Linked DNA regions of Homo sapiens. The protein of the gene in region 1 interacts with the protein of each later gene in a biochemical or structural test. Each region holds a gene or a part of one and is shown in the gene's direction. Other genes may lie near its edges.

Region 1 (8,082 bases):
TTTATTCTTTTGTTTTGTTTTGTTTTGTTTGAGATGGAGTTTCGCTCTTGTTTCCCAGGCTGGAGTGCAGTAGCGCAATCTCAGCTCACTGCAACGTCCACCTCTTGGGTTCAAGCGATTCTCCTGCCTCAACCTCCCAAGTAGCTGGGATTACAGGCACCCACCACCATGCCTGGCTAATTTTTTGCATTTTAGGTAGAGATGGGGTTTCACCATCTTGGCCAGGCTGGTCTTGAACTTCTGTCCTCGTGATCCATCCACCTCAGCCTCCCAAAGAGCTGGGATTACAGGCGTGAGCCACTGCGCCTGGCCAATTTTTGTATTTTTAGTAGAGACGGGGTTTCCCCATGTTGGCCCAGGCTGACTTTTCTTTTTTTGTTTCTTTAAGGAGTTGCTTCTTATGGCTGAGCAAAGAAAGTGGTTTCTTGAGATGGAATCTACTCCTGTGAAGATGCTATGATCATTGTTGAAATGACAACAAAGGATTTAGAATATTACATAAGCTTAGTTGACAAAGCAGCAGCAGGGTTTGAGAAGATTGACTCCAATTTTGAAAGAAGTTCTGCTGTAGGTAACATGTTACCAAACAGTATCACATGCTACAGAGAAATCTTTCATGGAAGGAAGAGTGGATCCTTGTGGCCAACTTTATTATTGTCTTATTTTAAGAAATTGGCACAGCCGGCTGGGCACCGTGGCTCACACCTATAATCCCAGCACTTTGGGAGGCTGAGGCTGGTGGATCACCTGAGGTCGGGAGTCCAAGACCAGCCTAACAAACATGGAGAAACCCCATCTCTACTAAAAATAAAAAATTAGCCGGGCGTGGTGGTGCTACTCGGGAGGCAGAGGCAGGAGAATTGCTTGCACCTAGGAGACGGAGGTTGCCGTGAGCCGAAATCACACCATTGCACTCCAACCTGGGCAACAAGAAGGACACTTCGTCTCACAAAAAACAAACAAACAAAAAAAAAGTGCTCTAACACAGCCTTGTGCAGTCAAAAGAAGATACTGTGTGACCCTGATAAGCAATTTTTGTTTTTATTTTTATTTTTATTTTTGATTCAGTGGCACAATCTGCAACCTCCATCTCCCAGGTTCAAGCTATTCCCTTGCCTCAGCCTGCCGAGTAGCTGGGATTACAGGCTCTCGCACCACACCCGGCTAATTTTTATGTTTTTGGTAGAGATGGGATTTTACCATGTTGGCCAGCCTCCCAAGTACATGAGATTATAGGTACATGCCACCACACCCTGCTGATTTTTGTAGTTTTTGTGAATACAGGGTTTCTCCATGTTGACCAGGCTGGTCTCGAACTCTTGGGCTCAAGGGATCCTCCCTTTTGGCCTCCCCAGATGCTGGGATTACAGATGTTAGCCACCAAGCCTGGCCAATTTTACCTTTCTGAGCTCAAGTTTTCTCACTTTGTACACGTGGTCAATGAGAGATTTTTATCATCAGTTGGAGGGAAGTGGTGAGATATATACACATGATATCAAGCATACACCAAGTTTGGAGATCAGTGGTAGAAAGAGATAAAAAGAATGTGTTGAAGATGTTGAGGACTGGGTGAGATTACTTTCAGCTGAGCTTTTTGGAGGAGGTGTCATTTAAAGTCTTGCTTCAGGCCACAAACAGGAATGAAGGCATTGAATGATGGATACTATTTCAATGGGTAGAGATTTGCAAGAAGAGTACTGAAAGAAAGATTTGAAGGCCAAACAAGAAACATGGATGTTGCAGGTGGTAAGAATGGGAGGGTAAATTAGGTGCATCTTGGCAAACCTTGAATGTTAAGATAGGAGTTTGATTTTTTTTTTTTTTTTTTTTGAGACAGGGTTTCGCTCTGACACCCAGATCGTGCAGTGGCACGATCTCAGCTCACTGCAACCTCTGCCTCCCGGGTTCAAGCGATTCTCCTGCCTCAGCTTTTCGAGTAGTTGGGACTACAGGCGTGCACCACCACGCTTGGCTAATTTTTGTATATTTAGTAGAGATGGGGTTTCACGATGTTGGCCAGGATGATCTTGAACTCCTGACCTCAGGTGATCTGCCTGCCTTTGCCTCCCAAAGTGCTGGGATCACAGGCGTGAGCCACCATGCCCACCCAAGGAGTTTGATCTTAATTCTGTAGCTGATGAAATACCAGTGAAGCCTTTTGATCTGGACTTTGACATTACATAGTAAATTTTTTTTTTTTTTTGAGACAGAATCTCACTCTGTCACCCAGGCTAGAGTGCAGTGGCACGATCTCGGCTCACTGCAAGCTCTGCCTCCTGGGTTCACGCCATTCTCCTGCCTCAGCCTCCCAAGTAGCTGGGACTACAGGCACCCGCCACCACGCCTGGCTAATTTTTTGTATTTTTAGTAGAGACGGGGTTTCACCATGTTAGCCAGGATGGTCTTGATCTGACCTCGTGATCCGCCCACCTCGGCCTCCCAAAGTGCTGGGATTACAGGCGTGAGCCACCACGCCTGGCCACATAGTAAATTTTTTAAATGAAAGCTGAAGCTGACACAGGGTAGTTTAGAGAGGAAGTTGATGCAAAGGAAGATTCCGTGACCAAGGGCATATGATTGTCAGGACATTTTGCTAGGTGACATAGAGCAGGAGATGGATGTCAAGATGTAGACCCTGCCAGCCAGGCGCGGTGGCTCATGCCTATAATGCCAGCACTTTGGGAGGCTGAGGCGGGCAGAGCACAAGGTCAGGAGTTCGAGACCAGCCTGATCAACATGGTGAAACCCTGTCTCCACTAAAAATACAAAAATTAGCCGGGTGTGGTGGCACTTGCCTGTAATCCCAGCTACTCAGGAGGCTGAGGCAGGAGAATTGCTTGAACCTGGGAGGCAGAGGTTGCAGTGAGCCAAGATCGGGCCACTGCACTCCAGCCTGGGAGACAGAGTGCGACTCTGTTTAAAAAAAAAAAAAAAAAAAAAAAAAAGATGTTGACCCTGCCCTCAAGGAGTTTACAATTAAAAAGATCAGATAAGCCAGACTCAGTGGTGCACACCTGTAACCCCAGTGATTGATTTGGGGGGCTGAGGAGGGAATATCGCTTGAGCCCAGGAATTTGAAGCTGCAGCGTGCTATGATCATGCCACTGTACTCCAGTCTGGGTGACAGAGCTAGACCCCATCTCTAAAAAACAATACTAATAAAAAGAAAAAAGGGTCAGATAAAACATGTACATAGAAAATTACAATACAAGGCAGAATGTGGCTGGACATGGTGGCTCATGCCTATAATCCTAGCACTTTGGGAGGCTGAGGTGAGAGAATCGCTTGAGCTCAGGAGTTTGAGACCAGCCTGGGCAACATATTGAGACCCTGTCTCTATTTACTAAAAAACAAAAAACAAAAACAAAAAAACAGAAAACAAAAAAACAAAAAACAAAAAAAACTAGGTAGAATGTGATACATGTGAAAAGAGATCCAGCTCAAGTGCCTTGGGAGCTCAGGGGAGGGTGAGATTAATCTCTTTTTCCCAAGAATCTGGAGGCAGGAAACCAAGTCGGTTTCATCTTTGGAATTGTAAGCTTAGACTTAGAAGTCTCAGAGGGGGACTTGGGGGTCTTATCCACCCTCACCCCTGGCAGGATTCCCTGTCTAGAATAAACAATAACTTTAAAATGGAAACAAAAAAAGGAGCTCTGAAGGAAAACTGTGAAGGAAGAGGCTCCGTTTGAAATGAATAGAAAATGAATTTAGCTTGGAGGTGCTGAGGTGTTGGTAGAGGCAACTTTCTGGCAAGAGGCGAGTTGAAGGCCAGGAAGTGAATGAGATCAGGGAGAGTGTCTGGAGGGAAGAGGGGCAAAAACAAACTGGGGAAGCACCCACGTTTTAGGAAGTGGGTGGTGAAAGAGGAGTCAGAGAAGGCCAGAGGGAGAGGTGAGCAAAGATCCAGCAGAACACCTTGTTACAAAGTTTCGAGGAGGGTGGGAGGGGTGGAAGCCAGGACGGGTAGCAGAAGGAAGAAAACTTCCAGCAATAGGGATTGAGGTTCCACACGAAGTTACCAATGACATTTCAAGGAATGAAGGCTTTTCCTGAGGCTCCACAAATAAGGTGAATTCCCTGTGTCTCGCATCTTTGGAGCTTCCCCGAGGCCAGGGGGAGCAGGGTTGTGCCCTCTGACCTCTAAATATCTGGGGTTCAGTTCTATAATTAGCAGCACCGGATAGGACGCGAGCCAAACCTCTCTTAACCCTAGCCAGTCCCTCCAGGAACTGAAAAGATGAAGAATTCATTTAGGAGATTTCACACTCGGCTGTTTGGCCTAGCCCAGTGAAGTCCCTTTTCATCACGCAACCCTAATGACTCTTAGGGCTGTCACTGCCGTCTGGTGTTGCCAGGGATCTGACTAAACCGTCTTGCAAAAGTTTGCAGCATTCACCCGAGGCGGACTACAACTCCCAGAATTCCGGGCGCTCCCCGGTGCTGATTGGCGGAGCCCGTGACTCCAGGGGGCGGAGTTTCCCCCGCCTCCCCGGGGAAACAGACCTCTGATTGGCTGGACCGCCGGGCTTTTGTGTCCCCGCCCTCCCCCGGGGACCGCAGCGGGCTGAACTGCTGGTGTCAGAGCCCGGCGAGCGCTGGCAGTTCCGCGGCGGGGATGCTGAGGAGCGCTGGGTCCGGGAGCAGCCCTGGCCCCTGCGGACTTCCGAGGCCGTGAAAACCCCTGCGCTGCGGCCCTTCCCAGGCCCCCGAGGCCGTTCGCCGTTCCCGAAGCCCGACTGGGGGAAGAGTCCAGCACCAAAGCGGCCGTTCTCGGATTCCGGAGCGTTCTGGAGCCCCGAGAGACGCCCCGGGGTTCTAGAAGCTCCCCGGCGGCGCCCAGTCCCGGCTTCATTCGGGCGTCCCTCCGAAACCCACTCGGGTGCACGGGTCGTCGGCGAGCCGCGACCGGGTCCTGGCGCGCACCATGATCGTGGCGGACTCCGAGTGCCGCGCAGAGCTCAAGGACTACCTGCGGTTCGCCCCGGGCGGCGTCGGCGACTCGGGCCCCGGAGAGGTAAGCGGCGGCCGCGCGACGCCCCTCTTCCCTGGAACCCCGAACCGCGTCTGAGCCTCAGGCTGTCCGGAGCTGAGTCGGTGTGTCCTGGGCTCGGGGAGGGAAAGCCGAGCGCGTAACCCGGGACCCGGGTTGCATCAACTGGCAGCCGCGGCCCTCGGCACCCCTCCCCCACTCTGTCTCCCCTCTCCCTCCTTCTCCCCCTCCCTCTCCCCCTCCTCCCTCCCTCTCCCCCTCTCCCTCACCGCCCCACCCCAGGGCCGCGGATCCTTCCTCGGCTCCCTCGGACTCCTGGCCAATGAGGGAGAAGCCTTCTGGAGGCTCTCCGAGCTTTGGGCTCCTGAGCGTCTTCAAGTCCAGGCAAATCCCGGCCGGAGCGGCCAGACCACTCCTCCTCCCCGCCCCCTTCCGCGGAGTCCCTTCCTCTTCGCGGGGGCCGGCGGGCAGAGGACCCTTCCTGGGGTGCCTCCCGGCTCCTGTCCCCCAGCGCGGGGCGTAGGCACCTGGGACTGGCCAGTGAAAGTCGACCTCATCCTATGTCCACCGCACTCCTGCTTTGGAGGGAGAGCGCAGGGGCTCTGGGGGCTTGGCGGGCCGCCCGGTACGCGGCGGCGGCAGCCAAAGCTGGGGGGAGAGGGGACAACCCTGGTCGCGGCTTCCGAAGCCAAGCGCGGGTTAGGCTGCGCCCTGCTAAGTAAGTGGTCTGAAGGCCCAGAAGTTTGTTTTCCAGAAATTCCTCCCCCACCCTCCCTTCGCGCCGCTCCCCTCCACCCCCCCGCATTCGCATCCCGGCATAGCCCGCAGGGGCTTTGCAGGGAGACCGGGAATTAGGCTGGACCTAACCAGACTGACAGTTCGCACTCCCCCACCACTACCAGCAGCAGCGATAATGGACATCTTATCATTTATTATGCACCTACTAGATACCAGGCTCTGAGTTTTTTTCGCCTTTAACCTAAGTCCTCAGGACTAAACCAGCAATACAAGCTACGCTATAGCCCCATTTTACAGGAAGAACATTGAGGCCCACGATGGGCTCAGAAAGAGGCTTTCTTCATTAACCCCACTGAATATCTTGTTCTTTGGCCTTATGATTTCGGAGATTGCACGGCACTAGGAGCTTCTAGTTGCTTTAGTTTACAGGCCTAGAGTGTGGTGGAAGTTGTATTCTGGACCTGGGATTTGGTGGAGTGCTATGACCCCAGGAAAATCCCTGCTTTTCTCTTAGTAACGTGGTTTCTGGGGATCCTACCTCCGTCGGTGTATAGTTTGTGCCCTGGTTTTTGTTAGCTTGCTTACCCTTCTCTGCCGTGATTTAGGAGCGCCATGTGGAGGAATGGCTCTTCTCCTGCAGCTTCTCAGCTGTGTGACTTCTTTGGAAAGATGGAAATAATGTTACTATTGAGAACACCTGAACACTAGAGAGCAAGAGTGCTGGGTTCATGTCCCAGCCCTCCTGCTAACTTGCAGTGTGTGGCTTAGCCAGTAATCACTTCTCTGATCTGTGGTTTCTTCCCATGGGGATTTTACAGTATCTCTAAGGGATTGTTGGGAGAATTAACTCAGAATACAAGCAAAAGCTGAAGCACTGTGACTGGAACATAGTAACTGCGTGATACTTGCTTGCTATTATCAGAACGTGGCCATGGCACGCACAGCTTTCTCCAGAGTGTCTCACAAGGGGGTGCCTGAGCCTGTTCCTGAGATCAGACACTGTACACCCCTCTCTGGGTCAGTGCCTGGTCTAGGGAGAAAAGGCTTTGAGGGAGGGATCTTTACACAGAAGCCATGTTTCCTCAGTGGAGAAAACTGCTGCTATCTGGGAGGTTTCTTTTTCTTATCTTTTTTTTTTTTTTTTTTTGAGATGGAGTCTTGCTCTGTTGCCCAGGCTGGAGTGCAGTGGCACGATCTCAGCTCACTGCAACCTCCATCTCCCAGGTTCAAGCAATTCTCCTGCCTCAGCCTCCCTAGTAGTTGGGATTACAGGCACCCGCCACCATGCCCAGCTAATTTTTGTATTTTCAGTAGAAACAGAGTTTCAGCATGTTGGCCAGGCTGATCTTGAACTCCTAACCTCAGGTGATCCACCTGCCTTGGCCTCCCAAAGTGCTGAGATTACCGGCATGAGCCACCGCACCTGGCCTATCTGGGAGATTTCTGTGTATTCCTCTCTCGAGAAAAGAGGACCTTCGGACGGTTTCTGCTTTGAGTGGTGGCATCCTTAGAAGACAGCAGGGTGCTGATCTTTGAGTCAGGTGCCCGAGGTCCAAGAGAAGACCCAGGCGTGCAGCTCCCTTAACTCCCTGTCACTTCACCACACACTCCCTTTCAGGAGCTCATTGCCTTCAGATGTGTGTATCTTCAGAAAGTTCCAAGGGCTTCACTCTAGTACTGGTAGTATTGGGCTCCCGAATAACTTTCTCGGCCAGATGCAGTGGCTCATGCCTGTAATACTAACACTTTGGGAGGCCGAGGCAGATGGATTGCTTGAGCCCAGGAGTTCAAAACCAGCCTGAAACCCTGTCTCTACAAAATATACAAAAGTTAGCCAGGCGTGGTGGTGTGCGCCAGCTACTTCGAAGGCTGAGGTGGGAGGATTGCTTGAGCCTGGGAGGCGGAGGTTGCAGTGAACTGTGATCATGCCACTGCACTCCAGCCTGGGTGACAGAGCAAGAGTCTGTCTCAAAAAAAAAAAAAAAAAAAAAACCAGGCTGGGCGCGGTGGCTCGCACCTGTAATCCAAGCACTTTGGGAGGCCGAGGTAGGTGGATCACAAGGTCAGGAGATTGAGACCATTCTGGCTAATACGGTGAAACCCCGTCTCTACTAAAAATACAAAAAATTAACCCTGCGTGGTGGCACACGCCTGTACTCCCAGCTACTCCGGAGGCTGAGGTAGGAGAATTGCTTGAACCTGGGAGGCAGAGGTTGCAGTGAGCCGAGATCGCTTCACTGTACTCCAGCCTGGGTGACAGAGTGAGACTCCGTCTCAAAAAAAACAAAACAAAACAAACTTTCTCAGACATCATTTCTTCTTCAGGGAAGCCCTTCCTCCCCCACTAGATAAGT
Region 2 (7,712 bases), on another chromosome or scaffold:
CCTCTGAGACAGCCACTGTTCTGCCTGGACGTGCACCTGTGACGGGTCTTCATGAGGTGTGCAGGGCAGGCCCATTCACAGGGAGGATGTACTCTGGGTGTTGGGTGTCTGCCAGGGGTCTGGACGGGCAGGGGCCTGAGTTAGAGTGCCTCTAGTGCACTGAGTCCCCAGGACAGGGTACGGCTTCTCTCAAGCCCTGGCAGTCTGGTTGGACTACAGATTCCAGGGCTAGCCAGAAATATGTTTCTCTTTTTCTTTCTTCTTCTTCTTCCTTTTTTTTTTTTTTTTTTTTGAGACAGAGTCTTGCCTTGTTGCCCAGGCTGGAGTGCAGTGGCGTGATGTTAGCTCACTGCAACCTCCACCTCCTGGGTTCAAGTGATTCTCCTGCCTCAGCCTCCCGAGTAGCTGGGACTACAGGCGCCCGCCACCACACCTGGCTAATTTTTGTATTTTTAGTAGAGACGGGGTTTCACCGTGTTATTAGCCAGGCTGGTCTCGAACTGCTGACCTCGTGATCCGCCCACCTTGGCCTCCCAAAGTGCTGGGATTACAGGCATGAGCCACCGTGCCCGGCCCCCATATTTTCTTTTCTTAAACATAATGTGATCTTAAGAGATGCTCTCCTGCCCGGGTCTCCACCTGCAGTTTCCCCTAAGCAGCAGGGGAATCAGCACCATTGAGCAGGGTGTTTTCTGATCTGTGTGCATGGTTAGAAAGTTTATGTGAACGGGTAACAGCGCCCACTCTCTGCAGCCTGTGCACGTCGGGCGTAGTTCGGCTTCACATCAACAGCTGGCTGGAGGTGAGCTTCTGCCTGCCCCACAAGATCCACTATGCGGCCTCCAGTCTGATCCCCCCAGAGGCCATCGAACGGAGCCTGAAAGCCATCCGGTAAGTGCCCAGCCCCACGTGCTCACTCCCTGCCAGGGCCCTTCCCTTTAGCTTCTGCCTGAGATTTTACCACTTACTTTGTTCCAAAATTTCTCTTTTTCTTCTTCCCACTGCGGAAGCTTGCAGGTGGGGCTCTGCCGTTTATAGAAGTTAAAACACATAATTTTGTATCCAGTTGTGTCCAGAAATGACCAATCCCAGGTTTCTCCTGGGCCCTTCTGGCACCACCTTAGGCTTGGGCAGGGCAGCCTGGATGTGGGGCTGAGTGTCCTTGGGGAGGCCGGAGGGCTGGAGGGACTTCATCTTAATGGTGTTGCCCTACCCCAGTCTTTTGCATTTCAGTCAGCACTCATGGGATCTCAGTTATTTTCTTTTTCTTTTTTTTTTCTTTTTCTTTTTTTTTTTTTTTTTTGCGGGGGTGTGTGTGTGTGTGAGAGAGAGACAGAGTTTTGATCTTATCGCCCAGGCTGGATTTCAGTAGTGCGATCCCGGCTCACCACTACGTCCACCTCCCAAGTTCAAGTGATTCTCCTGCCTCAGGCTCCCGAGTAGTTGGGATTACAGGCGCCCACTGCCATGCCTGGCTAATTTTTTTGGTACTTTTAGTAGAGACAGGGTTTCACCATGTTGGCCAGACTGGTCTCGAACTCCTGACCTCAGGTGATCCACTCATCGCTCATCTCAGCCTCCCAAAATATACTTTCTTAATTTAATTGACTTTTTTTTTTTTTTTTTTGAGATGTAGTCTTGCTCGGGGCTCAAGTGCAGTGGCACAGTCTCCACTCAGTGAAGCCTCTGTCTCCCGGGTTCAAGCGATTCTCCTGCCTCAGCCCCCTGAGTAGCTGGGATTATGGGTGCACACCACTACACCTGGCTAATTTTTGTATTTTTAGTAGAGATGGGGTTTCACCATGTTGGCCAGGCTCGTCTTGAACTCCTGACCTCGTGATCCACCCGCCTCGGCCTGCCAAAGTGCTGGGTTACAGGTGTTAGCCACCATGCCCTGGCAATTTAATTGATTTTCTGCAAGGAAAGAACTGAGCCCAGTCTTCTGGCACCACCTGTTCCCAAGTCCCCCAATACCTTGAACATTTTTTAATTATAAAAATATATCTGGGCACATTGCTGAAAATTTGGAAATGACAGAAAGCAAAGCGCTGCCTAGTTCCACCCTCCCCAGTCCGTGCTCTTTGCTTTCAATCCTAGCTAAGCATATTTTAATGTACTTTGGTCCCTAGTCTGTGAGGAGGATTTTGCTTTTCCCATATTTGGGACAATTTCCTTAGGAAAGATTCATTCATGTCTTCAATCAACAGATGTTTGCTGGGCGTCTCTGAGGTGGGATACAGAGTCCAGTCTTCGAGCCTTCCCCACTTTTGTCGTGTTTTTTTCCGAGGGTGACATAATCCTTGCAGGTTTTGTTTTTGTTGTTTTTGAGACAGAGTCTCACTCTGTCGCCAGGCTGGAGTGCAATGGCGCAATCTCGGCTCACTGCAAGCTCCGCCTCCCAGGCTCAAGTGATTCTCCTGCCTCAGCCTGCCGAGTAGCTGGGACCCCAGGTGGGTGCAACCACACCCGGATAATTTTTTTATTTTTAGTAGAGATGGGGTTTCACCATGTTGGCCAGGCTGGCCTCGAACTCCTGACCTCACGTGACCTGCCTGCCTTGGCCTCCCAGAGTGCCGGGATTATAGGCATGAGCCAGTCCTTGGCAGATTTTGTGAAGGCCTCCAAACAGACCACTGCCCTTTTCTCAAATCCCGCTCTTGGCCCTTCTCTCCGCAGTTAAGGGCCAGGAGGCTCCAGCTGCCTGTTTGTGTCCCAGGTGCATACCTGATGCACACCCGGTGCAGGACCTCGTGCAGGACCTGGTGCATACCTGGTGCAGGGTTCCCTGCACTTCGTATGTTCCGTGTGTTTGAGTCCCAGGTGCATACCTGGTGCATACCCGGTGCATACCTGGTGCAGGACCTGGTGCATACCCGGTGCATACCTGGTGCAGGACCTGGTGCATACCCGGTGCAGGGTTCCTGCACTTCGTGTGTTCCGTGACAGGTGATTGTTTTGCAGCCCCTACCATGCCCTGCTGCTGCTCAGTGATGAGAAGTCCTTGCTGGGTGAGCTTCCTATTGACTGCTCCCCTGCCCTAGTGCGGGTGATCAAGACCACATCTGCTGTGAAGAACCTGCAGCAGCTAGCCCAAGATGCGGACCTGGCCTTGCTGCAGGTATAGCTCTGGAGGCCCAGATGGGTGGCATGTGGCGGTGCTGGGGCATCAGGAAAGGCAGGCCGCCTGCCACAGTACATCCACAGGGGCTGTGTCCAGCTGAGAGCCGCGGCACAGCCCACCATGGGGTGGGGCCAGTCCCTGGGATGGCTGGAGGTTTTGGCATCTGAGTCAGACCTGGGTTCAGGGCTGGCTTTGTGAGTGAGCCACGGGACTGACTTGTTCTTCTGTCTCAGAGAGGTAAGGCGAGTCTGTGAGAGAAAGGACTGGGGTGCTTGCAGTCCTGGAGGTTGAGGCACCAGAGCTAGGGGGTGGGCAGGGCAGCAGCGGGCAGGGCCATGGGGGTCTCACAGTGGTGCATGAACAACATACGGGAACTAAGGGCAGGAAGCTTGGATGCGGGGCCCTCCCATGTGCAGAACAGAGACCTAACCTGGTGGCCTTACGCCCCTGTGTGTGCACATGTGTTGGCCTGTGCACTCTGTACAAGATGCCACGTCCTTGCTGAGCCACATGCTTATGGGCCTGTCCATGCAGAGGGCTGCCCTTTCTGATTAGATGGAGGGCCCCTCAGCCTCGTCTGCGGATCTGGTTGGAGTGTGGGAGGAAAAGCGCAGGCAAGGCTGGGCACGGTGGCTCATGCCTGTCATCCTAGCCCAGGACTTTGAGACCAGCCTGAGCAACATGGCAAAACCCCGTCTCTACAAAAAATACAAAAAAAAAAAAAAAAAAAATAGCTGGGTGTGGTGGCGTGCACCTGTAGTCCCAGCTACTTGGGGGTATGAGGTGTGAGGATCAATTGAGCCTGGGAGGCAGAGGTTGCAGTTAGCTGAGATTGTGCCACTGTACTCCAGCCTGGGCGACTCTGTTTCCAAAAAAAAAAAAAGCACGGGGAGAAATCAGAAGCAGGGGCTGCTGATGGGGTGGCCAACAGGCCATGGGATCAGCTGTGGCTGCTAGTCATGTGGGCGTGGCCCAGAGCCACGGGACCATTGAAATACTGCCTGAGGGTGGGAGCAGGTGGTGCCTGTGGGTGGCGCCCTCGTCTGGTGGCGGTGTGCACAGCATGGCCACCAGGGGGCAGCAGAGGCTGCCGAGGAACACAGGCGTGAGGTGGGCCCGCCTGGGTCCCTCTGGCTGAGCTTCCATGCTCTTTTGGCCTGTGAAACAGGTCTCTGCTTAGCACGTTAGGGGAACTTGTCCAACAAGGCCTGACTCTCAGGCCACTTTTCCCCGAAAGCAGCCTTTTTGGATTCTGTCTTTGAGAGTAAGTCTCCCGCCTCTGTATCTCAGGACCCTTTATCTATCCTCTGTGAGAGCACTTACCAAATTGTGCCCTTGTATTTCTTTTTTCTTTTCTGAGACAGGTTCTTGCTCTGTCTCCCAGGCTGGCATGTGGTGGTGCCATCATGATCCACCCAGGCTCAAGCATCCTCCCAAGTAGCTGGGACTACAGGTGTGCGCCTGGCTAATATTTTTTTTTTTTTTTTTTTTTTGGTAGAGACGGGGTTTCCCTATGTTGCCCTGGCTGGCCTCATACTCCTGGGCTCAAGTGATCATCGCACCTTGGCCTCCTAAAGGGCTGGTATTACAGGCATGAGCCACCATGCCCAGCTGTGCCTTTGGACTTCATGGGCTGGACAGGACTCAGTAAACACCATGTCCTGCCCACCTTCATAGCATTCAGGAGACAGAGAATTTTAAAAGAACTCACCACTCCATACAACCCTGCAGAGTGAGGGAGGCAGTGACCCTCCGTGTCCTGATGAGCACCGACCACATGGTAAATGCCTGTGGCTGTTCACTGGTCCTGTGTTGAGCTTTTGAAAGGAGCTGGGCCTGGCTTTCCTGAGGCTGTCTGGCAGGAGTTTGTGCTGGACACTGTGCCTCTCATCCTTGCTGTCAGAGTCTCCTTGGACAAAGCTTTGATGCCCTCTTCTGAGGTTGTCTGGCAGGAGTTTGTGTGGACAGTGTGCCTCTCACCCTTGCTCTCAGAGTCTCCTTGGACAAAGCTTTGGTCTCCTTTTGATGTCCCCTTCACTTCCCTGCCGTGGCCTTGACTGGGGAGAGGGAAGGCTGTTTGTCATTGTTTTCTTCTGTCTGTACCCCTTCCCTGCTGTCCCTGCTGCAGGTCAGCAGGGCGTTGCTGCTGGTGTGGCGGTGCGGAAGCCCCTGGGGCCCAGCCCTGGTGGGTCACTCTGTTTCCGGAGATAGCCCCCTGGGGAGCACCTGCCTCAGGTGTGAATGTCACCAGATAGTTTAAAGTCCCTCATGTGGCTGGGTGCAGTGGCTCATGCCTGTAATCCCAGCACTTTGGGAGGATGAGGCAGGAGGATTGCCTAAGCCCAGGAGGTCACGACCAGCCTAGGCAACATAGGAAGACCCTGTCTTTACAGAAAATTAAATAATTAGCTGGGCATGGTGGTGTGTGCCCATGGTCCCAGCTACTCAGGAGGCTGAGGTGGGAGGATCACTTGAGCCCTGGTGTTCGAGGCTGCAGTGAATTGTGATTTTACACACTGCAGTCTGGGCAACAGAGCAAGACCCAGTCTCAAAAAATAAAATAAAATAAAATTCTTCATGTTTATATCAATCCAGAGAGAATCTACAAGTAAATTTTGGGTGTGTCATGATAAAATTAGTATGTTACAAGACTTCAAACACTACACAAATTATAGACACAGAAAGTTCCCACAGTCCCATATCCCACAGGTAACCTAGATCCCTCCAGGTTTTTTATCTGTATATATACATTTTATTGTGTGTGTGTGTGTGTGTGTGTGTGTGTGTGTGTATATATATATATATATATATATATACACACACAAACATTTTATTTTGTATTATGAAAATTAGGATCGTGCTGTATATTCGTTGTGATTGGCTGAATAATGGCCCCCACAGATATACACATCCTAATCCCCAAAATCTATGAATGTGAACTCATGTGGGACTTTGGAGATGTTACTAAGTAGAAGATCTTGAGATGGGAAGATCATCCTGTTGAGCTCTAAATGTAATCTCTAAGGCCCTTATCAGAGGGAGGCAGAGGAAGATCTGATAAAAAGAGGCAGCGATGTGGCCACAGAGACAGAGTGGAGTGACGTGACCGCAAGCCAAGAGACACTGGCCGTTGAAGAGGCAGGACGAATTCTCTTCTGGAGCTTCCAGAGGGAGCCTGGTCCTGCTGGCACCTTATGCTTGCCCTTAAGTACTGATTTTGGATTTTCAATTTCCAGAATGGACAGCATCTTGGAGAGGCTGCTGCAGGGAGAGGCAGGAGGTGGAGACCACTATGCTGAGCAGAGCTGGGGGAAAGTGGGGGTGTCTTTTTGAGAGAGACATGCGAGTGGCACGTGGGGTGAGGGAACAGGGCGGTGATGGAGCTGAAACCTGCCATGTCGGGGTTGGCGGAGCCATTGGGGGCACTACTCGCACAATCTTGGCTCACTGCAACCCCCACCTCCCAGGTGCAAGCAATCCTCCTGTCTCAGCCTCCAAGTAGCTGGGACTACAGGCATGTGCCGCAGTGCCTGGCTAATTAAATAAAAATTTTTGGCAGAGATGAGGGTCTCACTATATTGCCCAGGTTGGTCTCGAACTCCGAGGTTCAGGCGATCCTCCTGCCTTGCCCTCCCAAAATGCTGGGACTACAGGCATGAGCCACTCACTCAGTCTGGAGGCCCTGTTTTCTGAGCTGAGGTATAAGTGTCCTCAGCAGCAGGGCAGCACGGTGTCCAGGCAGGGGTGACTCACCTCCACAGAGGCCTACCCGCCAAGAGGGTGGAGTGGTGTCCTGGGCTGATGCAGAGGCAGAAGTGCGAGAGCTTAGGATTTCACACACCTTTTCGTGAAGTGCTGGGGTGCTGTGCTCTCAGACCTCAGGCCTGAGCTTTCCTCTGGAAGGGGTTTGGGTTGTGTTTGTGTTTCCTGATGTTCAAGGGTCCACAAGAGCAAAGCTGGGAGGGGGGTCTCTGTGGGAGTCGGGGCACATGGGGCAGACCTGGGGCCTTTGGGTATGTAGGGGTGGCATGCTGAGTGACTCCACACCCATCATCGGGCAAGGCCATGCTGGAGTTTTAGGGGGTATAAGAGGGCTGTGCCCCTGCCAGGACATCCAGCTAAGCCCCCTGCCCAGCTGGGCCAGCACTGTGTTCCCAGCACCCCAGACATTCCCATGCTTGTGGCCTGAGACCACCATTCTTCAGTGGGAGTCAAGACAGCATAGGATGGGAAAACAGTGCCACCAAACAGCACAGGGAGCAGTGACAAAAAGGCCATTGTGGCCGGGTGCGGTGGCTCATGCCTGTAATCCCAGCACTTTGGAAGGCCAAGGTGGGTGGATCACGAGGTCAGATCGAGACCATCCTGGCCAACATGGTGAAACCCTGTCTCTACTAAAAATACAAAAATTAGCTGGGCGTGGTGGCATGTGCCTGTAATCCCAGCTACTCAGGAGGCTGAGGCAGGAGAATCGCTTGAACCTGGGAGGCAAGAGGTTGCAGTGAGCTGAGATTGTGCCACTGCACTCCAGCCTGGGCGACAGAGCAAGACTGTCTCCAAAAAAAAAAAAAAAAAAACCATTGCTCACAGA
Region 3 (8,504 bases), on another chromosome or scaffold:
CACTCATATGGCACGCATATGGGCTCAGAATAAACCTCTTTAAATATTTTACAGAGCAGTAATTTGGGAGGCTAAGGTGAGTGGATCACTTGAGCTCAGTAGTTTGAGACCAGCCTGGGCAACACGGCCAAACCCCATCTCTATAAAAAATACAAAAATTAGCCAGGTGTGGTGGTATGCACCTGTGGTCCCAGCTACTTGAGAGGCTGAGGTGGGAGGATTGCTTAAGCCTGGGAAGTTGAGGCTGCAGTAAACCGAGATGGCACCATTGCCACTGCACTCCAGCCTGAGTCTGGAAATATAGTCTCCAAATACATACAAAAAGTCTCCAAAATACATACAAAAAGTTTGATTTTGATTTTGTTTGATTTTTTTGGTCAACATGGAAAGAACACTTACATGGGGATCTCAGGGGTGAATAGCAATGAAGAAGCAGCCAGAGAGCTCTGGATGTTGCTCCAGAGTCCCCACTCTTTCTCTCTCTCCTTCCTTCCTTCCTTTCTTTCTCTTCCTTCCTTCCTTTCTTCTTTTCTTTCCTTTCTTTTTTTTTTTTTTTTTTTTTTTTTCTGAGACGGAGTCTTGCTCCGTTGCCTGGGCTGGAGTGCAGTGACTTGATCTTGGCTCACTGCAACCTCTGCCTCCCGGGTTCAAGCGATTCTCCTGCCTCAGCCTCCGGAGTAGTTGGGATTACAGGGCACCTGCCCCCACACCTGGCTATTTTTGTATTTTTAGTAGAGATGGGGTTTCTCCATGTTGGCCAGGCTGGTCTCAAACTCCTGACCTCAGGTAATCCGCCCGCCTTGGCCTCCTAAAGTGTTGGGATTACAGGCGTGAGCCACTGCACCTGGCAGAGTCCCCACTACTTCATGACAGTGTCATGACATATGGGTGGGAGACTCCAAAGCAGGATCCGAGGAGGCAATTGGAAAGGTTCTCCTGCTCCCTCTCCCCAAAATTCTGCTGAACCTTTTTCCTACTTAAGAAAAAAAAAACATTGGGAGAACAGAGTGCACCAAGGACTTGAAAGCCAAAGTACTATCTTTGCCTATGAACCATGACAGGCAGATTTTGAGAACTAGATAAATATGAACTAAAGAGGTGGGAGTGGGGGAGGGTTGCAGAAATGCTCAGGCACGATGATCTTAGATCCCACTCATTTTGGTGGGAAGCAAATTAACAAGCTATGTACACAAAGACAGAGAGCTTTAGAAGAGCTATGTCTCTATTTGTATGTATGTCCAAAGTAAAACTCAAACGCCTAAGCAGGGCTTTCTTTTTTTTTTTTTGAGACAGATTCTCACTCTGTTGCCCAGGCTGGAGAGCAGTGACCCTATCTCCGCTCACTGCAAACTCCGTCTCCCGGGTTCAAGCGATTCTCCCGGCCTCAGCCTCCTGAGTAGCTGGGATTACAGGCGCCTGCCACCATGCCTGGCTAATTTTTTAATTTTTTAATTTTATGTATGTATGTATTTATTTTTTTTTGAGACGGAGTTTCTCTGTGTCGCCCAGGCTGGAGTGCAGTGGTGCCATCTCGGCTCACTGCAAGCTCCGCCTCCTGGGTTCACGCCATTCTCCTGCCTCAGCCTCCCTAGTAGCTGGGACTACAGGCGCCCGCCACCACGCCCGGCTAATTTTTTGTATTTTTAGTAGAGACGGGGTTTCACCATGTTAGCCAGGATGGTCTTGATCTCCTGACCTCGTGATCCGCCCTCCTTGGCCTCCCAAAGTGCTGGATTACAGGCGTGAGCCACCGCACCTGGCCTACGGTGGGTTTCTAAAGAAAAAGAAGGGGCAGTTCCTAAAGTCTTTACTAAGAATTTACCTCAAAATAACATAAGCTACTGATTGGCTATACGTTGTTCTTTGTATCACAAATTCGAGAAACATGAAGATAATGGATGAGGTAGCCAGTCAGGAATGAAATGACTTTAATTTTAATTTTTTTTTAGAGACAGGGTTTTGTTCTGTCACCCAGGCTGGAGCACAGTGGCGCGATCATAGCTTTTTGCAGCCTCAACCTCCCAGACTCAAGCAGTCCTCTCACCTCACCTTCCCATGTAGTTGGGACTACAGATGCATGCCACCACGCCTGGCTAATTTTAATTTTTTTTTTTTTAGAGATGGGGTCTTGCCATGTTGTCCAGGCTGGTCTCGAACTCCTGGACTTAAATGATTCTGTCAAATAACAGGTGTGAGCAAACACGTCCAGCCTTTGCTCACACTCTTAATGGTGAAGTGTTTTTTTTTTTTTCATAGTGTACTGTATCAATATCTTAACATTATACTGAAAAGCTCAGATGTCGGGCCGGATGCAGTGGCTCACGCCTGTAATCCCAGCACTTTGGGAGGCCGAGGTGGGCAGATCACGAGGTCAGGAGATCAAGACCATCCTGGCTAACACGGTAAAACCCCATCTCTACTAAAAATACAAAAAATTAGCCGGATGTGGCAGCGTGCGCCTGTAGTCCCAGCTACTTGGGAGCTGAGGCAGGAGAATGGCGTGAACCCGGGAGGCGGATCTTGCAGTGATCCACCCACCACTGCACTCCAGCCTGGGCGACAGAAGGAGACTCCGTCTCAAAACAAAACAAAACAAAACAAAACAAAACAAAACAAAGCTCAGATGTCATATTCTTCAAGATTTCAAGATGCCATTTCGGGTCGCCTATTTAGGCTTTTCTCTCCTGCCATATTGCTTGCAAATCTATTATAATATACAAGTCATTCTGCCAAGCACATTCCTGTTGTAGAGTAACCAGTTGTCCCAGTTTGCCTGGAACTTATGGGTTTCTTGGGATGCAAGACTTTTTGGTGATGCAGTGCTAGAATATGAAAAGGGATCAGGCATGGTGGCTCACACCTATGGTCCCAGCTAATCCAGAGGCTGAGGCCGGAGGATCACTTGCTTGAAGCCACTACTTTGAAACCACCCTGGGCAACACAACGAGACCATCTCTACAAAAAGTAAAAAAAAAAAAAAAAAAAAATAGCTGGGCATAGTAGCACATGCCTGTAGTCCCAGTTACTTGGGAGGCTGAGGCAGGAGGATTGCTTGGGCCCAGGAGTTGGAGGCTGTGGTGAGCTATGCTCACACCACTGCACTCCAGCCTCAGTGACAGAACGAGACCCTTTCTCCAAAAAAATAAAAATAAAACATGAAACGGTCCAGGCAACAAGTTAGTCACCGTAATCTGTCAACAAGTCTGTCTTCCCCCTTATAGCCAATACTCCAGGAGGGAAGAGACCACACTTTCTTACCTCTATTCATACAATGACTTGCACATACAAATAGTGATAATATTAACAACAACAATAACAGTTTATTTTATTTTATTTTTATTGATTTCCTGGCTTCTAGAACTGAATTAATAGTTTATAGTTGAGCTTTTCTACATCCCAGGCCCTGTGCTTAGTTCCTTACAACAATCCAATGAGGTAAGCCATTTTTCCCTTCTATAGGGAAACTGAAGCTAAACCAGTTAAATCAACATTTAAGAGTGTGGGACTGAAAAGGAAACTTAATCACCACCCACCATGTTAGTACAGTGGTTCTCAAACTTTTTGATCTTGGAATCCCTTTACACTGCTGTTAAAAATTACTGAAAATCCCAAAAAAACTTTTTTTTTTTTTTTGACAAGGTCTTGCTCTGTCGCCCAGGCTGGAGTACAGTAATGTGATCCTAGCTTACTGCAGCCTCCTTCTGGGCTCAAGCCATCCGTCCACGTCAGCCTCCCAAAGTGCTGGGATTACAGGCATGAGCCACTGCGTCCGGCCCCCAAAAACTTTTATATGTAGTATACAGAATTTAAAAAATATATTCATTATTTCATTTAAACATTAAGGCCCTTCACATGAATACATTTTAAAATGAAAAAGAACAATATTTTCAAAAAAAAAAAAAAACAACAAAAAATTCTGGCAAATCTGTTTTAATGTTTGGTTTATCAGAAAACAGCGGCCGGGCGCGGTGGCTCACGCCTGTAATCCCAGCACTTTGGGAGGCCGAGACGGGCAGATCACGAGGTCAGAAGATCGAGACCATCCTGGCTAAAACGGTGAAACCCCGTCTCTACTAAAAATACAAAAAAATTAGCCGGGCGTAGTGGCGGGCGCCTGTAGTCCCAGCTACTCCGGAGGCTGAGTCAAGAGAATGGCGTGAAGCCAGGAGGCGGATCTTGCAGTGAGCCGAGATCGCGCCACTGCACTCCAGCCTGGGCGACTGAGCAAGACTCTGTCTCAAAAAAAAAAAAAAAAAAAAAAAAAGAAAAGGAAAGAAAGCAGCTGGATTGCAGGAGGGGGTATAGCTCACAGGTAGAGCATTGGACTACAGATCAAGAAAACAGCTGGATTCTCACATTTAAGTCTACCTTCATTGTTACGGGAGGCGCTGCTGTATTGTATGAAACAATAAATTGCACATTCAGACTTTTAAATATCTCGATGGGATAGGCATCAGGAGAAGAGGTATCTTCGGTTTGCACGAGCTTTGATTTTTCTTTTTTCTTTTTTTTTCCGAGACGGAGTCTCGCTCTTGTCACCCAGGCTGGAGTATAATGGCGTGATCTCGGCTCACTGCAATCTCCGCCTCCCGGGTTCAAGCGATTCTCCTGCCCCAGCCTCCCAAGTAGCTGGGATTACAGGCGCCCGCCACCCGGCTAATTTTTGTATTTTTAGTAGAGACGGGGTTTCACTATGTTGTTTAGGCTGGTCTCGAACTCCTGACTTCGGCCTCCCAAAGCGCTAGGATTACAGGCGTGAGTCACCGCACCCGCCCCGAACGTTGATTTTGATTTGAGACTGGGTCTGGACGAATGCTGGGGACTCCAGCGAGGAGCTAGTCAGGACAACAGGCACCTCACCTCACCCAAACCCAAACCTGCGAGCCCTTCCCAGGTCACCCACGCTTGCTCGAGCTTGGACTACAACTCCCGGCAGAGCTCGCGGCAGGGGGTGTGCCCGCAATCGCGAGGAGCGTGGGTGACTCAAACCAAGTGACGGAAGTGAGCGAGGGCGTGCCTGTTTGTTGCAGGCGCGGTGTAGCAATTGGAGGACCCAGGAAGAAGGGGCGGAGCCTATGCTTGGGTCAACCAATGGCTTGAGCTCAGGAGCAACCAGGGCACGGGGCGTGTCGGGGCTGATTCTCTGGCTGTGTGGGGCGCACGGTCCCGGGATACTGGGGACGGCGGGGTGGGAGGGCGCCGTCCTGGGGCCGCGGCGGCCGGGCGGGGGAGATGGCGGCGCGATGGAGCAGCGAAAACGTGGTTGTAGAGTTCCGTGACTCCCAGGTGAGCTAGAGGCCGAGTGGAGCCCTCTGGGCATGCGTCCTCCCCGCTTCCCCTCCCCCACGCGGCTGCTTCCGTCCCGGGGGGCTACGGGGAGACCCTAGGCCCCGTACTGAGGAGGTGGGCGGGGCTTAGCCGACCTCTTAGGCCCCGTCGGGGGAGGGAAGACGACCATCGGGGGCAATCGGGGCGAGCATGGACGGAGTTTCGGGGCTCCCTACGCGGGTAGGGGAGTGGGGTCCGCCTTGTGACACTGAGGCAGAGACTGCGCATCGTGAGTGCTGAGGGGAGGCTTCCCACAATCAGGGTACGGAGCGAGGGCGTGACGGCTTCCCGAGGCCCTAGCCGCGTGTGGCGACTTAAGGCAAGTCGCGGGACTTTTCTAAGTCTCAGCTGCGTGGACGTAACCCTGTTGGGGTGAATTCGATGAAACACTGTTTGCAAAGTGCCTGTTGCAGCGTCTACGCGGTTAAGTGGTTCTTAATGCCATCATACTGGAAAATACCGTGTAGTGGATAGGAGTGACACTGCACGTGTTGCCCGAGTTCGAATCCCGCAGCCCCTACCCTGTCATCACTCCGTACACGTCAGTTTTCTCACCTGTAGAAGGGAGATGGTCGTACTTACAAGATTGGCTTAAAGATTTTATTTTTTAATTTTCTATTTAATTTAATTTAATTTATTTTTTTTGAGATGGAGAGTCACTCTGTTGCCCAGGCTGGAGTGCAGTGGTGCCATCTTGGCTCACTGCAACCTCCGCCTCCGGGATTCAAGCAATTCTCCTGCCTCAGCCTCCCAAGTAGCTGGGATTACAGGTGCGCACCACCACGCCCGGCTAATTTTTGTATTTTTAGTAGAGACGGGGTTTCACCTTGTTGGTCAGGCTGGTCTTGAACTCCTGACCTCAGGTGATCCACCCACCTCAGCCTCCCAAAGTGCTGGGATTACAGGCGTGGGCCACCGTGCCTGGCCTATTTTACTTCATTTGAGACAGGGTCTGGCTCTGTCACCCAGGCTTGAGTGCAGAGGCGTGAATCACCGCTCAGTTCAGCTTCGACCTCCTGGGCTCAAGCTATCCTCCCACCTCAGCCTCCCCAGTAGCTGAGACTACAGGCGCATGCCAACACGCCCGACTAAATTTTTCATTTTTTTTTGTAGAGACGGGGTCTCCCTATGTTGTCCAGGCTGGTATGGAACTCCTGGGCTCAAGCGAACCCCCTGCCTCAGCGTCCCAAAGTGTTGGGATTACAGGTGTGATTCACTGAGCACAGCCTCGAGTGAAGATTTTATGTGGTTGTATGTTGAGGATGTGTGGCACACACAGCATTGGGATTTGGATGCTGGATCCTACCCCAGAGCCCTTGTTTAGCTCATTGGACTACTTTACTCATAGTGGGTAGCTCTGAACCGGTCATATACATCCCCTCTTCCCCAGCACCTAGGACAGTGTCTTGGTGATTCTCTTCAATTTTAAATTTATTTACCTTTTTTTTTGAGACAGAGTCTCACTCTATGACCCAGACTGTAGTGTAGTGGCATGATCTTGGTTCACTGCAACCTCTGCCTCCCAGGTTCAAACGATTCTTGTGCCTCAGCCTCCCGAGTAGCTGGGATTACAGGCACGTGCCACCATGCCTGGCTAAGTTTTGTATTTTTTGTAGAGACGGGGTTTCGCTCTGTTGGCCAGGCTGGTCTTGAACTCCTGGCCTCAAGTGATCCATCTGCCTTGGCCTCCTAAAGTGCTGGGATTACAGGTGTGAGCCACTACACCTGGCCTATTATTTTTTGTAGAGACAGAGTCTCTTTGTGTTGCCCAGGCTGGTCTTGAACCCCTGGCCTCAGGCGATTCTCCCACTTTGGCCTCCCAAAATATTGGGATTACAGGTGTGAGCGACTGTGCCTGGCCATTCTTTTCATTTATTCAACTAATATTTATCAAATACCTTCTGTGTGCCACACTTTTATTCACTCATTTATTCAACAAGGATTTACTGAGCTCCCTTCAGGTATACACTATACCATGCACAGGTGATTCATACTGAGGGAGATCTGGATAAGTATGAATGGGTGATGTGGTTTCTTCTTTCCAAAACCCCATCCTGTCTTTTGCCGGAGAATGAGTGAGTGGAGGAGCTACCCACCATTTTGCTCTGTGGTGCCCTCTGATCAGTAGCCTCTACTGAGAATTTGAGCAGTAGCATTTGGATTAAGGACCCCCAAGTACTGTCAGCACAGAGTCTCCGTGAGACCTGCTCTCCCTAGGGAGGCGCCAGACTCCTTGGAAAAGGAACCATATTCCTGTTTTCTTTCTTGTTAATTGCTTTTACTGGCAACTAGGACAGAATAGAATCATGTATCATGCCTCTAAGCCTGCTAATTTGGAAGCTACTAATCTGCAAACCCTTTAATTTTCACAGAAACCCAGGTAGTCTCACCCCTGCCTGTTTATAGAGATGTAATTGAAGAGACCTGCAGAGAGGGTGCTGACACATATATTAGGATGCTATGAAGTCGTAGCAAATAATTAAACCTCAACAGCAGTTGTCACAGTAAGAGAACAAAGTAAATTGGGTAATTTTACTGCCTTGTGGGAGTTTCTGTTTTTTTGTTCTGATTTTCCTATTTACAAGGCTTCCTCTTTATGTGAATTAGCATGGTTTTGTGGGTGATTCTGGTGATGATTGGAAGGGGCAGGAACCCATTTTATTAACTATTTTGTTAATGTAGAAAGACAAAGTTAAAACTCTTCATAATGCCTTTATGAATAGGAGCAATAAACTTTTCAAAACACTCCACATCTTTTAAATAATAATTTTATTAAAAAATTTTTAATTAAAATATTTAAATTTCTTTCATTTTGCATTTTTTTTTTAAATAGGGATAGGAGTCTCTGTATCTTGCCCAGGTGGTCTTGAACTCCGAGGTTCAAGTGATTTTCCTGCTGCAGCTTCCCAAAGTGCTGGGATTACAGGCGTGAGCCACCGTGCCTGGCCTAAAAAATATACATATATGGCCAGGCGTGGTGGCTCACGCCTGTAATCCCACCACTTTGGGAGGCCGAGGTAGGCGGATCACCTGAGGTCAGGAGTTTGAGACCAGCCTGGCCAACATGGTGAAACCCTATCTCTACTAAAGATACAAAAATTAGCCGACCATAGTGGCATGCACCTGTAATCCCAGCTACTTGGGAGGCTAAGGCAGGAGAATAGCTTGAACCTGGG
Region 4 (6,301 bases), 8.4 Mb from region 1:
ATCTCAGAACAGTGCTGCCACCTGACTCCTTTCTGACTTGACGGGAGGCCTAAAATTCAGATCAGACATGTTTTTGCAAAGGTACATGGGTGTGTGGTTCCTTGCACATGTGATTTCCAACATGATCTTCCTCAACTGGACTGGCTCCGGCTCCCCAGCCTGCAGCTAGGCTTGAAATTTCACCCCAACATGAGACTGTGTTTCTCACGATGGAGTGCGTATGACCCCAGGGCTGTGAGAAGCCATAAGATGGAAGAAACTGCATTTCAAATGAAAAAAGAAAAAAAAGCTTTACTCAAGATTAATGAGTTCATATTTGTACAGCAATTAAAACAAACAAATATGTTTTATTTGGAGATTTGGAAGGATTCGTGCATGCTTCGGGATTCTAATGTTGCAGTAAGCACAAATAGAACATGGAGAAGAATGTGAAACCTAGATGAATTTAACATTTTAAGTCTCCGGAGACACTTTTGAATTCCCCTGGGGTAGATCTGCTTCAGGCTCCACCTCAGACTCTGCCCATATTCACTCCTCTTCAAGAAGCATTGGCCGAATCAGTCACCAAAGTGTCTTATCTCATGTCCCTGGAAGAGATCAATTTCACCTAGGTCAGTTACAACCCAAAGTACATAAATTACTAAGCCTCCTGTGAGCAGGTTGTAGTCAGGGGTGGAGGGCTTAAATAATCCATAATTTCCTCAAGTGTTAACGTCTCCATTTTGTTTTATTTTATTTTATTTACTTTTTTTTAAATACAGAGTGTCACTCTGTCACCCAGGCTGGAGTGCAGTGGCACGATCTTGGCTCACGCAACTGCGACCTCCCAGGCTCAAGCTATCCTCCTGCCTCGGCCTCCCAAGTAGCTGGGGCTACAGGTATGCACCACCAGGCCCAGCTATTTTTTGTATTTTTAGTAGAGATAGGGTTGCACCTCATTGCCCAGGCCGGTCTCGAACTCCTGAGCTCAAGCGATCCACCCACCTCTGCTTCCCAAAGTGCTGGGATTACAGGCTTGAGTCACTGTGCCCGGCCTCCATTTTATCAAATTTTAAAACTGAACTGCAGTGAAGTTAAAATTCTTGCCCAAGGTCACATAGCTGGTAAAGTGACAGGAGCCAGATTTCCAGCTATAGTCAGTGCTGGTGATAGTTAAGGCAAGGCACTTTTGAGAAACAAAGTTGTTCCTAAGCCAAGATGGTAGGAGGAGGACAACAGGAAGGAATGCTCTGTTAACAGTGGTCATTTCTCAGGGGTTGCAGTAAGATGAACTTTCACATTCTACTTTATTTCTGTAATACTTGGGTTGTTCCAGCCAATATGTTTTCTTAACGGTGGTTGCCCAATGATGTTAAAAGGTTATTTTTTAGGCTCTAACCCCAAATAACTTCCCTTGGTCTGATTTCAACCTCACTCAGCTACCTTCTGACAATTTGATTTCCCATTAAGCTGGCTAGAGAGAGAGGCACTGGCCGGCTGGGTGAAGCGGCTCATGCCTGTAATCCTAGCATTTTGGGAGGCTGAGGCAGGTGAATCACCTGAGGTCAGGAGTTTGAGACCGATCTGGCCAACATAGTGAAAGCCCATCTCCACTAAAAATACAATATTAGCCGGGTGTGGTGGCACACGCCTGTAGTCCCAGCTACTCAGGAGGCTGAGACAAGAGAATCGCTTGAGCCCGGGAGGCAGAGGTCGCACTCCAGCCTGGGCAAGACAGAGCGAGACTCTATCTCAAAAAAAAGTGAGAGGGACACTGGCCAAGCCAACATCACTGTGTGGCCCACCTGATTTTCTATTCTTATTATAAATGAATGTGGCTCAACACATTTTTCTCCTCTCATCCCTAATCCATCCTAGGGTCTCACAAACAGAAAATAACATTATGCAATGCAAGTCCAAGCAGAGAAAACACAGAATCTCTTCTAGCATGGTAACACACAGGCATTCGGTCACTCTTGTCCGTGTACAAAGTCTGGTTGTCTCATCAATGCCTGACCCTTTGTCAGAGAGCAAGTAAAGGCTTCTTTTCTTCATCCATTGCTGTGTTACATAGAGGTCTTTCACTTGCAAGGGACAGAAGTTCAATTTGAACTGACTTAAGAATAAAAATCAGGGTAGATTTTATAGGTTAATATCCTTGAAAAAATCCAATGCTAGGTGTCCTGCTTCAGGTGTTCAAATAACATCATCAGGCCTTTGTCTGATTCTTTTCTCATTTTTCTTTTGTGCTGACCTTACTCTTGAGCAGGTTCTCTGCACACTGTGGTCCTGGCAGCCCCAGGGTTCCATCCTCTAACTTAGAAACCCAGCACAAAGAGAAACTTCTCAAGGGCTCCAACAGAAGTCTCAGAATTGAATCTCATTGGCTTGGCTTCGATTATATGCCTACGCTCAAACCAATGGCTGCAGCTAGCAGAGCAGAGCATGCTAACTGGCCTGTCCTGAATTGTATCAGGGCCCCACTTCCAGAGAGCTGGAGCCAGACATCACCCTCTCCGTGAGCACAGAATGACGGTGGGAAGCAGTGGTTGCCCAAAGTGAAAACAGAGAACTGTTACCCAAAAAAGGGGAAAGAATGCTAGGCATGGGGGAAAAAACATGCCTAGATCCAAGGCCACCTTCAGCTTGATCTGGGGGAAAACGTGATATAGATGTGTATCTATACCTTAGTATCTGAGACAGGTCTCAGTTAATTTAGAAAGTTTATTTTGCCAAGGTTGAGGACACATGTCCGTGACACAGCCTCAGGAGGTCCTGATGACATGTGCCCAAGGTGGACAGAGCACAGCTTGGTTTTATACGTTTTAGAGGGACATGAGACATCAATCAACATATGTAAAATGAACATTGGTTCCATCTGAAAAGGTGGAGCAACTTGAAGCAAAGGCAGGAAGACCTGAAGTGGGGAAGGGGCTTCCAGGTCACAGGTGGATAAGAATGGTTACATTCTTTTGAGTTTCTGATTAGCATCTCCAAAGGAGGCAATCAGATATGCATTTGTCTCAGTGAGCAGAGAGGTGACTTTGAATAGAATGGGAGGCAGGCTGGCCCTAAGCAGTTTCCAGCTTGACTTTCCCTTGTGGCTTAGTGATTTTGGGGCCCCACGATTTATTTTCCTTTCACAGAGGTAACTGATGGTCTAGCTACAGGTTGAGAAGAAATGGGATGGGATGGTGAGAGTATTGGATTTCAGAGATAGAGGGCCCAGGGGGAGTGGGGAGGTGGGAGTTACCGATCCCACAAGGGAGGGAGCCCCTTTGGGGCTGGTGACTCCAGGACACAGAGGGTGGCCTGCAGTGCCAGCTACTGGGGTAAGGGAAAGAGCTGAATCAGAGGCACAGGACTCTGTGTGGCCCTTGGCAGGTGACATGAGCACCAAAGGATCCTTCACACGGGCTTCTGAGTTCAGAGTGGCCTGAATGAAACATTTGTTTGAGGGAGTGCACATGCCACCCCGCCATTTGCCCTTGAGGGCAAAGTAAGGAAATCACGTTTTCCTAACTGCTGTGTTACTAATATCTGCCTGTCTCACATGAGTCCTCTTAGCCTACGCCACCCGGCTGGGGCCAGTTGTGTCCAAATGAACCAATGAAATTGATTCAACCAGACCTTGGACGCTGGTAGATTCCACAAGGTCCTGCTCCATGGAAGGCCCCTTGGCAGGCAGCCAGCAGCCTACCCTGACCACACCCTGCCCTTGTTTCCCAGCCTTCCCTACAAGGCTGTATCAGGGTTCCGGGAAATGGGGGCTGGGGACCCCGGGCACAGGGCTTGGCTTAGAGTAGGCCCAAATAAATGGCAGCTGTTCTTAGTACTACTGGATACGCAGCATGCCTAGCACAAAACAGGACACCTGTGATTAGGCATGTGAAGTGTGCAGCAGGGCACCGATGGGAAGTTCATACACCCGTAACTGTGAATACAACAGCTGTGGCTCTAAGGAAATGAATACAGTAGCAGGTGCCAAACACCTGTGCGCTGTATGTGGTTTTGTTTTTCTGCGTTGGGTTGGGCTTTGTCCTCCTTCCACTCACTTTTCTTACCTCTCCCCTCCTCTTTCCAAGGCCACCTGCCTGTAAATGTGCTCCAAGTGCAAACAAACTTTTTTCCACTCATCCTGACATCCAAAAGTTTGTGTCTGAGAAAGCAGTGTCCACCAATCCACCTATGTCCGACTCATAGGGCTGTCTGTTTATTGTGCAGATTTGTAGATGCCAGTGAGCCAAGATCGGGCCACTGCACTCCAACCTGAGAGAACGAGACTCCGTCTCAAAAAAAAAAAAAAAAGTTAAATAAAAAAAATTAATAAAAGGTTCAGGGACCTGGGAAGTGGGGGTGAGAGAGTTGGATTCTGCTGCCTCCTAAAGCTTGAGCCACAGTTCTGTGGGCACCCACCAGGTACCTGGCCCCAACAGGAAAGTCCTGATTCACTAGACCCTTGCCCACTTTGCCCTCCTATCAGGCAATTCAAAGTCTCCAGACCCGCAAGTTACTGATTAACCCTAGGTTTTGAGAAAATAAATAATAATAACTGAAGGGACGACGTAAGCCAAGAAACAAGCTGGGCAGCTCTGGGAGAGAGGAGTGTCAGACAGCTGTTGTCAACAGGCACCTGGCCAGAGTGAAAAGGAGGGGCAGATTCCATCCAAGTCCCAGCGGCGCCAGCTGACACTCTCTGCCAATGCCCAGGTGCTGAGCGACAGTGTCCCACCGGTCCCTGTGCCCAGAATGGCCTGCACCAAGACCCTGCAACAGTCCCAGCCCATCTCCGCAGGAGCCACCACAACCACCACCGCTGTGGCCCCTGCTGGGGGTCATTCTGGCTCCACAGAATGTGACCTGGAGTGTCTGGTGTGCCGGGAGCCCTACAGCTGTCCCCGGTTGCCCAAGCTGCTGGCCTGCCAGCATGCCTTCTGCGCCATCTGCCTGAAGCTCCTGCTGTGCGTGCAGGACAACACCTGGTCCATCACCTGCCCGCTGTGCCGCAAGGTCACCGCCGTCCCCGGGGGCCTCATCTGCAGCCTGCGCGACCATGAGGCGGTGGTGGGGCAGCTGGCCCAGCCATGCACAGAGGTATCGCTCTGTCCTCAGGGGCTGGTGGATCCTGCTGACTTGGCAGCAGGACACCCCAGCTTGGTGGGAGAGGATGGACAGGATGAAGTAAGTGCAAACCACGTGGCAGCCCGGCGCCTGGCCGCGCACCTACTCCTGCTGGCCTTGCTCATTATCCTCATCGGGCCCTTCATCTACCCGGGTGTCTTACGATGGGTGCTCACCTTCATCATCGCCCTGGCCCTGCTGATGTCCACCCTCTTCTGCTGTCTCCCCAGCACCCGGGGCAGCTGCTGGCCCTCCTCCAGGACTCTCTTCTGCAGAGAGCAGAAACACAGCCACATCTCTTCCATTGCCTGAGTGCCCTCTGATGAGGCTATCCCTGCAGCCCTTTCTGCCCTTGGGCCCCCGGACTTCCACAATGAACAGGGTAAGGGGTTACGGACTAAGACTGGCTCCTTTGGGAAATCACATGCCAGCGGGACTTGCAAGCCACAACCGAGATGGCCAGCCTGGGTCAAGAATTACACGCTTGGATGACAGGCTTGCACTTGCCCTTGGGATAGCATAGCTAAAACTGTTGGTGGCTAGGGGAGCAGACACAAACTACTTGAACATGACAAGATGGGGGAAGCTCCTGTTCCTCTTATTCCAATGTTCTTGGTTTTTCTTTATATAACTTGATGAAAGTATTGCAGTATTGATGCCATTGTAGAATAGAACTGGAATTCCATTCTTTTTGCAATTTATGTAGCTGGTTTTGTTTTCTTGTTTTCCTTTGTTTTTTTGGGTTTGGGGCAGCAGTTGGTTCACATTTCCCTTTGTTACACATTTTCCCTCCTGGGAGCTTGGAGTCCACGGGGAGGTCCCACTGCGCTTCCTCTAACACTGAGCATCTCATGCCCAGCCTAGCCTCGGCAAGTGTCCTGGTTGTTTAGGTCTCCCATGGAGTTGACCCTAGGGTTGGGGAGACAAAATGTGTGTGAAGGGATGGTGTTTCTGAAGCTGCAGGGGGAGTCCCACATTTAGCTGGCAGAGATGGGGAGGGGTGGAGAGGGCAGGGTTTGGGAATTGCTCCCAGTATCCTCACTAGGAGTTCCCCACTCCGTGCCACTAGGCCCTGACTTAGCAGCAAATCTCGGGGTTACAAGGACTGCAGTCCACATACAGTGGGGCCAGCTGCCCATCTATTGCACAGTCCCACACGGTAGAACTAGATCTTTATGGATGTTACCGTCTTTGTTATTGC

Evidence for each region.
Region 2: the proteins of SESN2 (region 1) and NPRL3 form a complex in vitro, tested with the Homo sapiens proteins (one study listed by BioGRID).
Region 3: the proteins of SESN2 (region 1) and WDR59 form a complex in vitro, tested with the Homo sapiens proteins (one study listed by BioGRID).
Region 4: the proteins of SESN2 (region 1) and RNF186 form a complex in vitro, tested with the Homo sapiens proteins (one study listed by BioGRID).

Annotation. Positions count from the first base shown.
Region 1 is NC_000001.11:28,254,924-28,263,005, forward strand, and holds the start of SESN2 (sestrin-2), read left to right. Parts: upstream 1-4,594; 5' UTR 4,595-4,924; coding exon 4,925-5,014; intron 5,015-8,082. UniProt on the Homo sapiens protein: Functions as an intracellular leucine sensor that negatively regulates the mTORC1 signaling pathway through the GATOR complex. In absence of leucine, binds the GATOR subcomplex GATOR2 and prevents mTORC1 signaling.
Region 2 is NC_000016.10:93,551-101,262, reverse strand, and holds part of NPRL3 (GATOR1 complex protein NPRL3), read left to right. Parts: intron 1-753; coding exon 754-891; intron 892-2,961; coding exon 2,962-3,118; intron 3,119-7,712. UniProt on the Homo sapiens protein: As a component of the GATOR1 complex functions as an inhibitor of the amino acid-sensing branch of the mTORC1 pathway.
Region 3 is NC_000016.10:74,981,746-74,990,249, reverse strand, and holds the start of WDR59 (GATOR2 complex protein WDR59), read left to right. Parts: upstream 1-5,126; 5' UTR 5,127-5,232; coding exon 5,233-5,286; intron 5,287-8,504. UniProt on the Homo sapiens protein: As a component of the GATOR2 complex, functions as an activator of the amino acid-sensing branch of the mTORC1 signaling pathway. The GATOR2 complex indirectly activates mTORC1 through the inhibition of the GATOR1 subcomplex.
Region 4 is NC_000001.11:19,813,529-19,819,829, reverse strand, and holds RNF186 (E3 ubiquitin-protein ligase RNF186), read left to right. Parts: upstream 1-4,546; 5' UTR 4,547-4,728; coding exon 4,729-5,412; 3' UTR 5,413-5,801; downstream 5,802-6,301. UniProt on the Homo sapiens protein: E3 ubiquitin protein ligase that is part of an apoptotic signaling pathway activated by endoplasmic reticulum stress.